Homo sapiens: one gene and its partners. The protein of the gene in region 4 purifies or fractionates together with the protein of the main gene of each other region. This does not show direct contact. Each region holds a gene or a part of one and is shown on either strand. Other genes may lie near its edges.

The links. The genes of interacting proteins can lie anywhere in the genome.
Region 1: the proteins of NIPSNAP3B (region 4) and PDK3 purify together in Homo sapiens (affinity purification with mass spectrometry; one large-scale study listed by BioGRID and IntAct). This does not show direct contact.
Region 2: the proteins of NIPSNAP3B (region 4) and DGLUCY purify together in Homo sapiens (affinity purification with mass spectrometry; one large-scale study listed by BioGRID and IntAct). This does not show direct contact.
Region 3: the proteins of NIPSNAP3B (region 4) and CYP24A1 purify together in Homo sapiens (affinity purification with mass spectrometry; one large-scale study listed by BioGRID and IntAct). This does not show direct contact.

The regions. Positions count from the first base shown.
Region 1 is NC_000023.11:24,524,286-24,527,785, forward strand, and holds part of PDK3 (pyruvate dehydrogenase kinase, isozyme 3 isoform 2 precursor), read left to right. Parts: intron 1-1,912; coding exon 1,913-1,989; intron 1,990-3,288; coding exon 3,289-3,390; intron 3,391-3,500. UniProt on the Homo sapiens protein: Inhibits pyruvate dehydrogenase activity by phosphorylation of the E1 subunit PDHA1, and thereby regulates glucose metabolism and aerobic respiration. Can also phosphorylate PDHA2.
Region 2 is NC_000014.9:91,169,573-91,173,072, forward strand, and holds part of DGLUCY (D-glutamate cyclase, mitochondrial isoform b precursor), read left to right. Parts: intron 1-430; coding exon 431-629; intron 630-3,500. UniProt on the Homo sapiens protein: D-glutamate cyclase that converts D-glutamate to 5-oxo-D-proline.
Region 3 is NC_000020.11:54,160,487-54,163,986, forward strand, and holds part of CYP24A1 (1,25-dihydroxyvitamin D(3) 24-hydroxylase, mitochondrial isoform 1 precursor), read right to left. Parts: intron 2,377-3,500; coding exon 2,231-2,376; intron 1-2,230.
Region 4 is NC_000009.12:104,762,766-104,766,928, reverse strand, and holds the start of NIPSNAP3B (protein NipSnap homolog 3B), read right to left. Parts: upstream 2,801-4,163; 5' UTR 2,689-2,800; coding exon 2,629-2,688; intron 605-2,628; coding exon 394-604; intron 1-393.

The DNA of each region.
Region 1 (3,500 bases), on a different chromosome or scaffold from region 4:
TCTTGAAGAATGGACTGGATACCATGCAGTAGGTATGGAAGCTGGAAGTAGGTATGGAAGCTGGAAGTAGGTATGGAAACTGGAAGTAGGTATGGAAGCTTCCAGTAAGCTGGAAGATCTTAGCGAAATGGCATGGACCAACTATGAAGCAACCCAAAAAGGGTAGCATGATGTTGACCAGTTGGAGGAGTATAAAGAAACTCCATTTCATGTTAAGGCTGGGAACATTCTCCTCCAAGGGACACATGAATCATTGTTATTGCATTAATAGGGAAGAAAATGTCTAGGTACACTGTTGTGGTTGTTCTACAGTGATCAATATTTACATAGTTATAATGTCACCAACACTTGATTTTCTACTTTCTTGAAAGAACCTATAGGCAATTTACAGCATCCCTAATTTGGGTTACAGAACAGAATGTAAATATTACCAACCCAAAGACTACAGCAGAAGTAGTAAAGAGTGGCTGCCTCTGGGTTCAGACTGAAGGATAAGATAGGAAAGGGGGAAGGACTTTTGTTTTTCTTCTTTTGTTAAATTTTTAAGCCGTTTACATATATTACTAAGTGATTTTAAAAACAACTGCTCAGGCCAGGCACGGTGGCTCACGCCTGCAATCCCAGCACTTTGGGAGGCCGAGGTGGGCAAACACCTGAGGTCGGGAGTTCGAGACCAGCCTGTCCAACATGGCAAAACCCCGTCTCTACTAAAAATACAAAAATTAGCCAGGAGTGGCGGCGCACACCTGTAATCCCAGACACTCAGGAGGCCGAGGCAGGAGAATCGCTTGAACCCGGGAGGTGGAGGTTGCAGTGAGCCGAGATGGCGCCACTGCACTCCAGCCTGGGCAACAGAGTGAGACTCTGTCTCAAAAAATAAATAAATAAAAATAAAAATAATTGCTCTTTGAAGAGTTCGGGATTTAGACTCAAAAGCTCTTTGTTCAGGTGTCTGGTTTCGGTGCCACTTCTGGGACCACGGGCAAGTCACACAGGCTTCCCAAAGCCTGTTTCCAGACCTCTAAACACCACCACCCCTCTAGGAGCCAGGAAGTGTTGTCAGGAGGAGTCAATTGAATAATGTATGTGAAAGCTCTGTGTAGACTGCTAAGAATCAAGCAAATGTGAACTCTAATTTGTATTACTGTTAATTACTTTATTAGAGGAAGTAGCTGGTTGAAATTACAGCATTCTACCTGAGAGAGTTCATGTAGTTTCAATCTCTTAAGTGATTTTGGGTCATGAGGAGGAGGAAGGACTGTATTTTTGAGCATCTGCTCTGTACCGCACACTGTTCTTATTGCTTCACCTGGGTTTTGGTGTTTCTCAGATTGTCTTCAGATGACCCATGGTGCAAGGGGAAAAGATCATAGGTCTCTAGGGGTTTATGTGCTAGCTGCTTGAGAAAAAGTTATGTGAACCTTACATTCTATGCTATAAGATGCCTTGTTTGTCATAATTTAACAAAACTGAACACTGCCATTTAGTCCAGTTCACCAGCCCTTTTTTTTCCTGTTGCTCCACATTCTCCCGTGGAATTCCCCCTGGGGTCAGTGGCAGAAGGTAGCCCCCAATTTGAAAAACACCAAGTGATATCTGACTGGCCTTCTGTAATACTCAGGATGTTATGGCATAGGTGATAATATTCCAATTCTGCTCAACAAAGTTTCAAAGAGATTGAGTGATTTATCCAAGGTCACATAGCTGGTAAGTGAAGGAACTGGGTGTCACCCCAGGTTTGTTTGATTCTAAAGCATATGCTTTTGCTCAGCCCTGCCTTTAGAGGTGGAAACTCAAATTAGCCTTTTATAGAGCTCTGTTTTACACACTTGGAAAATAGAATGCAAACATCATTCTTGAATTTCTCCTACTTTGGGTCCTTATTGATTGATGGTTTTGTCTCTGTTTTCAGCCAAAGCGCCAGACAAACCTATTCAGGTGGTTTATGTGCCCTCACATCTGTTTCATATGCTATTTGAGTTGTTCAAGGTAAGTGGAATTTTAAAAACGTGGAAAGAAGTCTTCATTTTAAATTACTTTGATTCAGGGCATAATGGATTCATTAGATTAGCATAAGAAAAAGGTTTTGCATAACCATTTTAAAAATTCTATTTCTGATATCCTGTGGGTTTTATAATTTGTACACTGTGAGATGAGAAATTGCTGTGTACACTATAGTTTTTGTGAATATTAGTACATATTGATTTTGAAGCTTAATTGCACTTTAGTGATTTTATGTAAAATCCATACTGTTTTTTCTTTAGTTATGAGATTAGAGATGCTTTTTAGTTTCCAAACCTGGCAAAGGCTTTACTGGTGATAGCCAGATCAAAATAAAAACATGTTTATACATATTTATGCTTCTGAAAATTAACCACACTGGTACATTAGTGGTTGTTCCAGTCCTGAGAGATCCTGCAACTCTTTTATAAAATATTTGAATCAATTCAGAAGATCCAAGAGAGGCAGAGGAGAAAGATGTAGATGAGCTGGACCAAAAGAACCACCCCTCCCCCCCACCAAATTCTTTAGAGTCTGCAACTTAAGCTGTTGCTTTTGTTAATCAGTAGCTAATGACATTTACAGTAGCAGTATTACAGGCACAAGGCATTTGAGCTAAAATTTCATTTCTTCCAATGCGTGAAACACTAAATTGAACACCTGAAAAATCAGTTATGCTGATTTGCTTCCAAAAATTAGAATGTTACTGATGTAACGCTTTAAGGTTGAAATGGGCATTCAATTGTGAACTTTCTCTTCAGCAGCTGTGGCTTTTTCAGAATTTCTTTTTAACCAATATTTCTTCTACTTTTTTCAGCCAAATGATTAATTTTTGTGGGAAGCATGCATCCTTTCAGTTTTTCTGCCTTCTTTAGAGAAAAGGTGCTCTATAAATGCAGACTGATAAATAGGATTTAAAGTGCACAAATCAGCCTCTGCATAGCCTCATTACATGCGATAAAAACATTCCTCTGGGTTGAGTTGAATAATTTAAATACCGTAAAGCGAAAAAAAAAAAAAAAGAGGAAGAAGAAGAAGGAAAGAAAAATAAATATTTAGCATGTTGGATGAGGCTAAAACTAGGTGAAAAACAAAGTGTCAGGAAATTTTTCCTTGATTTGAGCACGTTTAGCTAAGCTCTTTAGAGGGAAAAATGCCATAAAAATCCAACTAATATTTGCCCCAAAAAAGGGTTGTTGGGTATAAGTCATCTTGCGCTTCTTTCTCTTTAAAAATTGTGGTTTGTGATTCGGCAGTATGATTAATAAAAAGATCTTATTATTTTAGAACTCAATGAGAGCGACAGTTGAACTCTATGAAGACAGAAAAGAGGGCTACCCTGCTGTTAAAACCCTCGTTACTTTGGGTAAAGAAGACTTATCCATTAAGGTAACTGTTTTATGTGCATGTATACTTTAATTATCAGTTGTGATTTAATAGTATCTAGACATTGAAAAATCAGAGGGAAGGAAATTGACATTTATTGAGTGTCCTGTTTG
Region 2 (3,500 bases), on a different chromosome or scaffold from region 4:
CTAGTTTTTGTATTTTTAGTATAGACGGGGTTTCACCTTGTTGCCCAGGCTTGTCTTGAACTCCGGAGTTCAAGTGATCTGCCCGCCTCGGCCTCCCAAAGTGCTGGGATTACAGTCATGAGCCACCGTGCCTGGCCACCATTTACTTTTCTCGGTGGTTTGGCTTGTTTTGGCTTGCGGGTATAGGAGACACACTGGGTGGGAGGTGGGGGTACGTTCTATACGTGCTGATTTAATCGTTTCCGATCTGGGGACATTTGAAGGATGCCAGCAAGGCCCCCTGCTGAAAACTATGCTCCCTACCCTGGTGCCAGGGCTGAAAATTTCAGCACTAGACATCCTCTTCTCTCTCCGCAGTCCTTCTATAATGTATTATCAGGGGCCACAGTGAGAGTCTGGGGCCCTCCCAGCTTTCCCCTTATGTCCCCAGGATGGGCCATCCCCAGTTCTGGAAATACGAGTTCGGTGCCTGCACCGGCAGCCTGGCTTCGCTGGAGCAGTACTCGGAGCAGCTGAAGGACATGGTGGCCTTCTTCCTGGGCTGCAGCTTCTCCCTGGAGGAGGCCTTGGAGAAAGCGGGGCTCCCCAGAAGAGACCCAGCAGGTCACAGCCAGGCGGGTGCATACAAGGTAGGGACACAGCCCACAGCCCACAAGGGCAGAATGGCCTGAAGATGCAGATCAACTTACATATTCCTGGGGTGGGGAGAACATGGGCACGGGAGGTGGAAAACCTAAGCTCCAGCCCCAGCTCAGCCATTTCTAGCTGTGCAACCCAGGAGAAATGATCAATCTCTCTGAGCCAGCCTCGGTCCCACTCACCTCTGGGACCACTGTGAGCACCCAGTGTGGCCCTTCTTCATGGTTCAGTGCTGTAAACCAAACCTGCTTGGGATTTCTCTGGCTCCTTTAACTTCAGGCACCTCAGCGAGATTTTTAAAAATCCTCCCTGGCTCCGGTGAGCCTCAGCCAGGGGGAATGAGCCTGGCTCTCTCAATACCCAGGGATTTGTGGCAGAGCCTCGGCCAGGCAGTAGCTCCTGGGTCAGGTCTCTGTCCAGAAAGCTGGGTCATGTTCTTGGCCGGAGGTGGCCTCTGGCAGTCACAAACACAGCACAGCCGGCGTCTCTGGGACGTGCCTGCTGTGCCTCTCCCAGCCCCTACTTGTCAAGGTGAGTGCACTCGATTCCCTGGTTCCACAGACCCTTCCTGGACATCTGTTGGTAAAGTCTGAGAGTTCACTCTGCTCCATCAGTGGTCAGCCAGCATAAACAGCCAGGCTCCAGGTTTCTTTATTTATGGAGGACTTGGATCAGAGATTTTGTCTTGGACTCTGGGACATTTATTAAAATGTCTTGGTTTGGGCTCCTGCCAGAGAGGCCCCAGCTGCCTCTGATCAGCAACAAAGCTGCCCATAGTCTGTGCTGCCTTCATGGGTGAAGTGTGCCCGAGCGGTTCTCTTGAAGCTAGGGAAGGGTGGGGATGGGACCCCAGCCACTGGCAGGCACCCATGGCAGTCTCTGGCTCTGGAACACAGCACCCTTTGTAGGAGGTGGGAGCTGAGAGGGCCCCATGGCTCGTCACATGCAGATTCTCATTTTAGATGAGGAAACCGAGGTCTAAAGAGAGAAAAGGACTTGCCCAAGTCCCAAAGCCAGATGGGAACCTGGAACCCCTGGCTCCCATCTGTACAATGTCAATAACAGAGATGTGACAATTAAATGATGCTTTGCAGTCACAGGGTCTGCTGATATGGCAACTGTTTGTTGCCTACAAAGGTGCAAGTAAGTGTCCACAGTAAGTGCTCAACAGGGCTTCACTGACCCCGATGCTTATCAAATAGCTTTCAGTCTAATATCGACACCTCTGCCCCTGGGCTCCAGGGAGAGATGGCCAGACAGCCATCTGGGATTCCATTGGCCACCCCCAGACGGGATGTGTCTCAGCCTTGGGGAGGGCTGCCTGGCTCTGCCAGTGGCTCCAGCATGTCCCCTCTCCTGGGTGCTATTATGCAGACACTGCTGGCAGCCACACCGAGGTTCCATCCTGCTGCCGCCAGGGTGGTGATAGCAAGCTCTTTAGGTGGTGGCCAAGACTGTCACAGTGGATTATAGTCCTGGCCATGTCCTAAATCTTTCATAAGCTCTATTGCAGGCACCAGAAACCATTCAGGAGGTGGGGTGGGGGAGCGAAACACCAATAAAAGTCACACAGATCAAACCGGGCAACATCTGTTAAGGCAGGAGGCACCAGGCCGTGCTCCATGGGGTCTGGGGACAGGCTTGTTGCTTGTGTGGATTCAGGAGGCAGAGTGAACACCAGCTCCTCCTGTGATGTTCTCCCTTGCCTCCCTCTGCCCGTGATTCACCAGAGGCTGTTTACCTTTGGTCCATGGCCCTTGCAGTCCCTAGAGAAATTCAGAGGCTCCATGATATTGGATGGGAAAAAAAGTACGTTTTTCTTTTCCCTTCTTCCCTCCCTCCCTTCTTTATTTTATTTTATTTTTATTTTTATTTTTGACAGTTCTTGCTCAGTTGCCCAGGCTGGAGTGGTGCAGTGGCACAGTCACAGCTCACTGCAGCCTCAACCTCCTGGGTTCAAGAGATCCTCCCATCTCAGCCTCCCGAGTAGCTGGGACCATAGGCATGTGCCAGCACACCCAGCTAATTTATGGTTTTGGTTTTTTTTGGTAGAGACAGGGTTTCGCTGTATTGCCCAGGCTGGTCTTGAACTTCTGGGCTCAAGCGATCCAACCTTCTTGGCCTCCCAAAGTGCTGGTATTACAGGCATGAACCACTGTGCCCAGCCTCAATTTTATTTTCATAACCTCAACTCACATTTAGCATTTCCTTCAATTATGAATGTAGGCAGCAAATGGCTGTCATATCAGCAGACCCTGTGACTTCATGGCTGGCAACAGAAATCACAGATATCTTCATATCACGTTAGAGTTCTTCCTGATGTCTCAAAAATATCCTATATGCTGATCACTACTTCAAAGTTACAATGATAGTAGAACTGGCATCTTGTTTCTTAGGCTGCTACTGAGGAAGCATGCATATTGTCTCACATTTTTCCTTTTTTTTTTTTCTTTGAGATGGAGTCTTGCTCTGTCACCCAGGCCGGAGTGCAATGGTGTGATTTCGGCTCACTGCAATCTCCGCCTCCTGGGTTCAAGCCGTTCTCCTGCCTCAGCCTCCCGAGTAGCTGGGACTAGAGGCGCGTGCCACCATGCCCGGCGAACTTTTGTATTTTTAATAGAGATGGGGTTTCACCATGCTGGCCAGGCTGGTCTCGAACTCCTGACCTCGTGATCCGCCCACCTCGGCCTCCCAAGTGCTGGGATTACAGGTGTGAGCCATCGTGTCTGGCCACATTTTTCTATTATTTGATAACTGTGCTTGCAGGATAATTGGTTTCCTTTGGAATCCTGTGCATTTTCTTGTATGCAGTTAAAGGCATTACTTTGACCAGGGGTCCACAGCTGTACTAGTCTACCAAA
Region 3 (3,500 bases), on a different chromosome or scaffold from region 4:
TGCAAGACCATTCAGAGATGATGGTTATTTTATTATTTTTGGAAGAAGATGCCTCCAAGGCAGTCTTCTTCATGTCAGAGGACTGGCAGCCTCGGCTGCAAATAAACTGTAGATGCCATTATTATAAGAGTCTAATTTACAAAACAGGAAGAGGGTGTAGCCATCAAATTAGATACACTTTCAAATGGTTCTGATTTTCCAAATGTGACTTTCAGAATAGCCAGGACCAAAAAAGAAACAGATTTAACCATATCAGTGAGTCCCTCACCGCAAGTACCAAATAGAGTTTCCAAAGGGCAGATGACTGTAGCTTTTACCAAAGCCACGTAAGGCAGTCTGAGCCTGTAGGGAAAACTGCAGGGGCTAAGCTGCAGCAGCTGATTTGAGGGGAAGTGGCCTGGAAAACCTCAGGGGCACAAACTATCCTTGATTGACCTCCATGGAACAGACCAAGCTCATTGACTGGCCTGCTGTACCCACTCTCTTGGCTAAGTCTATTCTCCATCCACCAGCCAGAGCCCACTTTTAAAAACATAAATGATCAGGTGATTCCCTTGCTTAAAATGCTGCAAGAGCTTCCCATCACAGGTGCAATCAAATCTAATGCCTTACCCAGGCTGGGCTCACAAGGCTCTGGCTAACATGGCCCATCCAATTCTCCAGTCTCAGCTCTGACCACATTTACTAGTTCTGTAGCTCCATCCCTCTTTCTGCCCCAGGGCCTTTGCATGGGCCGTTTCCTCTACCTGCAGCGCTCTTCCACGAGGTCTTTCTGTGGCTGGCTCTTCTCATTATTCCAGAGTCAGCTCCAGTACTGCTTTCTCAGAGAGGGCTTCCCTTTAATCATCTCCATCTCTCTATATTACACCATCCTGATGGCGTCCTCCACAATCCACACCACTATCTAAAGTGACCACATTTGTTTGTTTACATGGCTACTGTCTGTCTTCCCCACTTGCATACAAGTTCCATGAGAGTGGGAACCCTTGTCTCTGGTTCATGGTGGTCTCTCAAGAACCTGGAACAGTCCCAGGCATACAGTAGGCACTCAATAGTTCCTGAATTCCTTCATTTATTCAACAAGTATCTATCAGCCGCTACTAGATGCCAAGTACTGTTCTATGTCCTGGAAACACAGCAGTGGACAACTCTAAGCCATTGCCCTCAGAGAGGTCACGTTCCAGTTGAAAAAATAAAAGAATAATGGGTGACACTGTACTTTGATCACTGGAAGGAGCCACCCAGGGTAAGCAGTTCAACAGGAAAGTGAGCGAGGATGGATTCCCACTTTCAACCGCCTTGTGGAGCAGGAGGAGAAATGAGAACCTCGCTATCTCCTGATAGAGAAAACCCTACCTTTACTTCAGGCAAGAAACAGCACAGAAGGGGAAGCACATGGAAAATAAACAACTGCTTTACATTTTGCTTAGAGACTTTAAGGTGCATGAAATGTTGGACTTAGGAGGAGGTTAGCGTGCGCCACTCCCATCACAGCTCGAACTAGTATCCAAGTCAATTAAACCTACCTGAATGCCTATGGCAGGATTTGTTTGGGGTTGGTCTCACTTAGTATCTGCTATCTCCTAGGGAGTATCGGCCACATCAGAGACAGAATTTTGGTCTTTACAATGAGCTGTTTTGCTTCAGTTAAAATCCACTTGTCCCAGACTCTTTGGGACTTTGTTTACAATTCTAAGCAGATAAAAATATTATTGGCTTGAAAGAGAGTATGCCTTTTTTTTTTTTTTTTTTTTTTTTTTTTTTTTTTACAGTAAGTAACAGCCACAGTTAGGCACTTTGGGGTAACATGTGCAACTGAACAAAATACTTCCAATTTTGAAAAATCTGGATTCTGTATCTTGCCAGGGCAGAGAACTTTACTGCTCCTGAACTCCCGTAGCAGTTTGCATGGACATCATGGCACTCATCACATCCTACTCTGGCTTTTTGTCACTGGGGCACATGAAGTCTCCTCCTACCCAGAGTTTAAGCACAGAAGCCCGTGCATGGAGGCACCGTGGCGTCTGGTATGAGGCCGTGCGCTGAGGCACCGTGGCATAGATGCTGTGCGCGGAGGCACCGTGGCATCTAGTATGAGACTTTTCATTTTTGTGGAGTTGATGCTAGTGAATCCCAGTGAAATGAATGAGATGAATTACTATTTAAAATCTGTCATCTAAAAATGGTACAGACCGTTCATTTAGCAAACTCAAATCCAGCCCACCCTTACCGTTTCCACCGCAGCCAGCTGGAGCTCTGTGACAGCAGCATACAATTCTTTCTTTGAAAGCCGATTCTGGTGATAAATGTCACAAAGGAAATCTGCACTAGGCTGCTGAGAATACTTCTCTAACCGGTTGTCGATACAAGCTTTGACTATTAGAGCAGAGAAGAAAGAGAGGAAGTCAGCTGAAAATTGGGATGAGGAAAATCACAGAAGAAAACCTCAGTCCAAACTCCTTCTTGCAATATCTAAATAGTCTTTTCAGGAACACTGACAATTTGCTACACACACTAATTATATTATTGCCTTCTTGTCAAGTCGGCAAGGATTTTTCAATACCGACATGAGCAAGGCTTCTCAAACTTTAATGTGGATAGGAGTCACCTAGGCATCTTCTCAAAATGCAGAATCTGAATCAGGGCTTGGGTAGGCCTGGAACTCTGCATTCCTAATAAGCTTCTAGGTGATGCTGATGCCACTGGGCTGCAGGTCATAGTTTTGAGTAGTAAGAGTTTAGATCTTGGGAGAAAAAAGTGTAAAAGAAGGTAGGATTTGGGTTCACTTTCAGAATCCAACTTGGACCCAGATATTACTAAGCACACATACCCCACATACATACGCACAAGTAGAGTGTCCATCCATGTTGACAATAATGGTAAAAATTTCTAATATTTATAACATAAAATCTAGGCGTGTACCTCCCTCACTATTAAGCAAACAACCACCAGGCTCATTATATGGTAATAATCATGCTGATCACATATGGCACAGCAGTTAGAGTTCGAGTCCTGGAAGCTCCTTGTCTGGCTTCAAACCTTGGCTTTGCCATCACCTAGCATGCAATCTTGGGAACGTTGGCTAACTTCTATGTGTCTCAGGTACCCCTCTCAGGGCTAATAAAAGGACCTACCTTATAGGTGTGTTGTGAGGATTAACTAAATGTGTAAGTGAACAATGCCTAGCATCAAATATTCCCCTTCGTCATGTGGCAGAAATAGATCTAGTCCACGGAGATACTGTGATATGCCAGGTTTTTATGTTAACTGTAATCTGTAGTAGACCCAGAAACAGTTACATTGAGGTAGGTTCTCTTATTATTATTATTAATTATTAGTCCATTTTAGAGACAAGGCAACTGAGGATGAAAAGGTGATTGCACATTTGGCCAAGCCACCACAACCAGTGACAGAGCTGAACTTGAACTCAGGAGTCCCTGACTCTATAAATTTTACTTTTTTATTTTGAGATGGAGTCTCACTCTGCCTCCCAAGATGGA
Region 4 (4,163 bases):
TTTATTAAATATACATGTCTTTTGGCAGGCCCAACGGTGATCTTAACCCACTTGAACATTTACAATTACTGCTTTAAATTTTTCATGAGCTATCTTTATAGCAAACGATTCTAACATTTTTCTGAGGATTAAAGTCTAATTCACAATTTTATGGTTTGATATATGAGACTGCATGTTTTCTCATTTATGATAACATAAGAGTTCAAGCAAGGGGTGGTTAGAGGTGTACCACTGGGAAGAAGATCTGCTAAATTTATTTTTTTGGTATTGCTTTTAAAAAGTCTTACTTAACCTGTATGTATCTATGGTAATATAGATCCAAGAACTAAGTCTTATGTTACATTTAACAGAATGAAAATCTATACTGAATACTAAAACTGGATGACTCTTTACCATACTTCCAAATATGAAACACTTTATTCGTTCTGCCTCCAAATTCTACACTCCAGAATCCAACCAATTCAGAGTAAGAGGTCCGAAGATGAATGTTTTTCTTAAGATTTTCCATGAACGCATTCATATTTGAAGGTTTAAGGTAATAAGTACGAAATTCATAGAACGTTCCATCGTATTGTCTAGGGCCCGTAGCAAAAGATGAACACACCTGAAGGAGGTAAGACAAATGTAAATATCTTGGGAAGGTACAATTACAGATTTGGTTACAACCAAATCTGAGTCTGGTACAAGGAACACACATAGACTCATTATCCATTGTTTACTTTTGTTGTCAATTCTCCATATACACTTGTTTACATAGAGATGTCAATAAAGATAACTACTCTTAATTCTGATGAATATATAGCAACTGTTTCCTAGCAGGGGTCTACCTCTAGCCATTTTTTCACGAGAATTTGCTCACAAGAAGGCTGTGGGATCATAATGATACTCCTTTACCGAAGAACTACATTTAAGACTTAGTCTCTTTAATTTACAAAGGGTTTTCCCCTGTTTAGCCAATATTCCATCTTACTCAATACCATATGTATTAGTTCCACACATTGAAAAAAATTTATTAAGTACACATGCCTTTTGGCAGGCCCAAAAATACGTTTACTAACAAAAAACTCTTGTTTTTAAAAGGTTCCTAAAAAAACAGGAAGGGCTATTCAGGTCAAAGTATTTCCTGAATCTACTGATGAAGACTACCGGTCAAAAACAGGACTGGAATGTAACTAATATAAAAGGAAGCTATAACTTATCCAATTGCATTGTACTATGGGTGTATACTGCATAAAGGCTGAAAAGGAAAAAAACTCAACAAATGAGAATTGTCTCCATCATTGTTTCTAATTACAGATGCAATATCAAGAAGTATGTACATTTAGTGCACTCAATTATACCAAGTTTATGGAACTATCCTTTAAGAACCACCCTTTGTAATAGTCATATGCCCAATGGGTAAATTTTCTGTCCTAATCTGGCCCTCTGAGCCTGAGTGAGCTTAATGTTCAGTAGCAAATGCCCTGTCAGAAATTATCCAGTCTGTCTGTATGTACGTACATGCAAATATTTATGTAAACACACGTGTATACACAGACCACTCCCGTGGCATTCTAGTTTACAAATCCATTCATTTAGGCATGGTTAGCATGTGACAATTTCCTGAGGCTCACTACCCAGAATAATCTATCGCAACAGTTTCAGTAGGCATCTTTCACTGACATATTTTTGGTTACAACATGCAAATGTCTATGTAGTTTGTGTGCATAACGTCTTAATTATAATTGTCTATCTTGAGTTCATTCATCTCCAGTATGAGTTATGCCCTTATTGCCCAAGTGTCTTAGTTTTCTTAGAAAACCCTTCTTCATACCAAAAAATACCTGCAACTATCCTTTCTTTTGATGGCCATTCTTTTTGGGTCAGTTTAATCAAATTCTGAAAATAAAAAACTGCTTAGTATCTACAGTTTAAAAATATTATTATCTCGGAAAATGGGCCAATGAGGTATTTCTAATAACTGCTTTTAAAGTTGATTTTCGGAGATTTGTATCTGGAGATGTTATCCTAAAAAAACGCAACAGCTGGCGCCACGGGGGTGTCCCGGGAGTTGTGGCATTTAGGCTAGAAACAGCTGGCATCAGGCTGGGCACAGTGGCTCATGCCTGCAATCCAGCACTTTGGGAGGCCAAGGTGGGCGGATCACGAGGTCAGGAGTTCGAGACCAGCCTGACCAACATGGTGAAACCCCCGACTCTACTAAATAGTAAACACAAAAAAAATTAGCCGGGCGTGGTGGCTGGCGCCTGTAATTCCACCTACTCCGGAGGATGAGGCAGGAGAATCGCTTGAACCCGGGAGGCGGAGGTTGCACTGAGCCGAGACTACGCCACTGCACTCCAGCCTGGGCGACAGAGCGAGACTCCGTCTCAAAAACAAAAACAAAAATCACAAAAACACTGGCATCCAGTTAGAAAACCCCTCTGACAGCGACTGCCAGCGAGACGACCCCGGCCTGTAGCCTCCTCCTTGCGCGCCAGACGGCTCCAGAGACCGCGTTAGAACTTCGGCGGCGGCGCGGGGCCCCAGGTCTGGGAGCGCCTGAGCGTGGCTCGCACGCTTCAGAAATACCCCCCGCCCCTCCCCTCCCCTCCGGCCAGGGCTCGGGCGCGCCCCCGCGGCCAGTACCTGAGGCGCGAGCGTCCGTGAGGCAAGCGCCTTGGTCAGGCCGCTTCTGAGAACGAGCATGGCGCGGCTTCGGCACTGAGAAAAGCAGCCAGCCGAGTCCTTTGTGAGACTTCTCTGAAGTCTTCCCGAGTGGAAAAAAGCGGCTCCTGGACCACTGGCGAACTCAGGCAGGGGCGGGACTCGGCGGGGTCAGCTCCACCCCGGCGCGGGAGGCGCGACAGGTCCCGCAGTTGGCGTCTTTCTCTTCGGCGCTGAGCCTCGGTCCCCCTTGGTTTCCTGAAACGTTCTTGCCCCAGACGTTAGAGGTGACAGAATTAGCTGAAGGCTGGGATCGTTCCTGCCCCACCTTTCTGGGCCCTGACCTCATTCGCTCCGATGCGCAGTTGTGTAGATTCGTAAATGTGCGGCGGTTGTGCTTGTGTTGCCCCTGGAGAAGGAAGGGGAGGTGTTCAGCGTGTGCATGTGCAGTGCTTTGCATTTAAAGTCGAGATGTTGACAGGGTTAACTTGTTTCTTTGTTTGAGACGTAGTCTTGCTCTGTCGCCCAGGCTGGAGTGCACTGGCGCGATGTCGCCTCACTGCAAGCTCCGCCTCCCGGGTTCACGCCATTCTCCTGCTTCAGCCTCCCCAGTAGCTGGGACTACAGGCGCCCGCCACCACGCCCCGCTAATTTTTGTATTTTTTAGTAGAGACGGAGTTTCACCATATTGGCCAGGCTGGGACAGGGTTAACTTTTACAGGTTGTGATAGACGTGTATTTGTAGACCAGTGAGCCTTCGCTTTTCTGCATTATCTGTCCCCATTGCCACCCCACTGTGATCTTGGAAGGCTCCTAATAAAGATTTAATTTTCCATGAGCTCAGTGGAATAGCAGCACCGAGCCTGATAGGAAAAAGTCGAAGTTAAACATAGATAGTTTGAAACTAGATCGTTCTGTAAGCCTTAAGAGCAAAACAGCCGACCTCTGGTCTAGTCCTCCCAGTCCCAGAGTACTGGTCCCCAGACTAACCACCTTCAACATTTTAAGCTGTTCTTCTAATACCTGTTTCCGTATGTTTTTTATTTTTTTGAGACAGAGTCTTGCTCTGTCGCTCAGGCTGGGGTGCAGTGGCATGATCTTGGCTCACTGCAACCTCCGCCTCCCGGTTTCAAGAGATTCTCCTGCCTCAGCCTCCTGAGTAGCTGGAATTACAGGCGCACGCCACGACACCTGGCTAATTTTTCTATTTTTAGTAGAGACGGCGTTTCACCATGTTGGGCAGGCTGGTCTTGAACTCCTGACCTCAGGTGATCCTCTCGGCTCAGCCTCCCTAAGTGCTGGGATTACAGGCACGAGCCACTGCGCCTGGCCCGTATTTTTAAATAATAGTCATTTTCTGCTATTTCTTGCATTTTCAGTTATGGAGAGTATGTGTTGCCTTCCTTCTGTGGCAGATGAGGATTTAGGTCTCACAGAAGCCACTCCCCCGGGGGCTTATCATTTGTGTTGAGAACATTCAATATCCTCCTAGCAATTTGAAACTATATATTATTAAC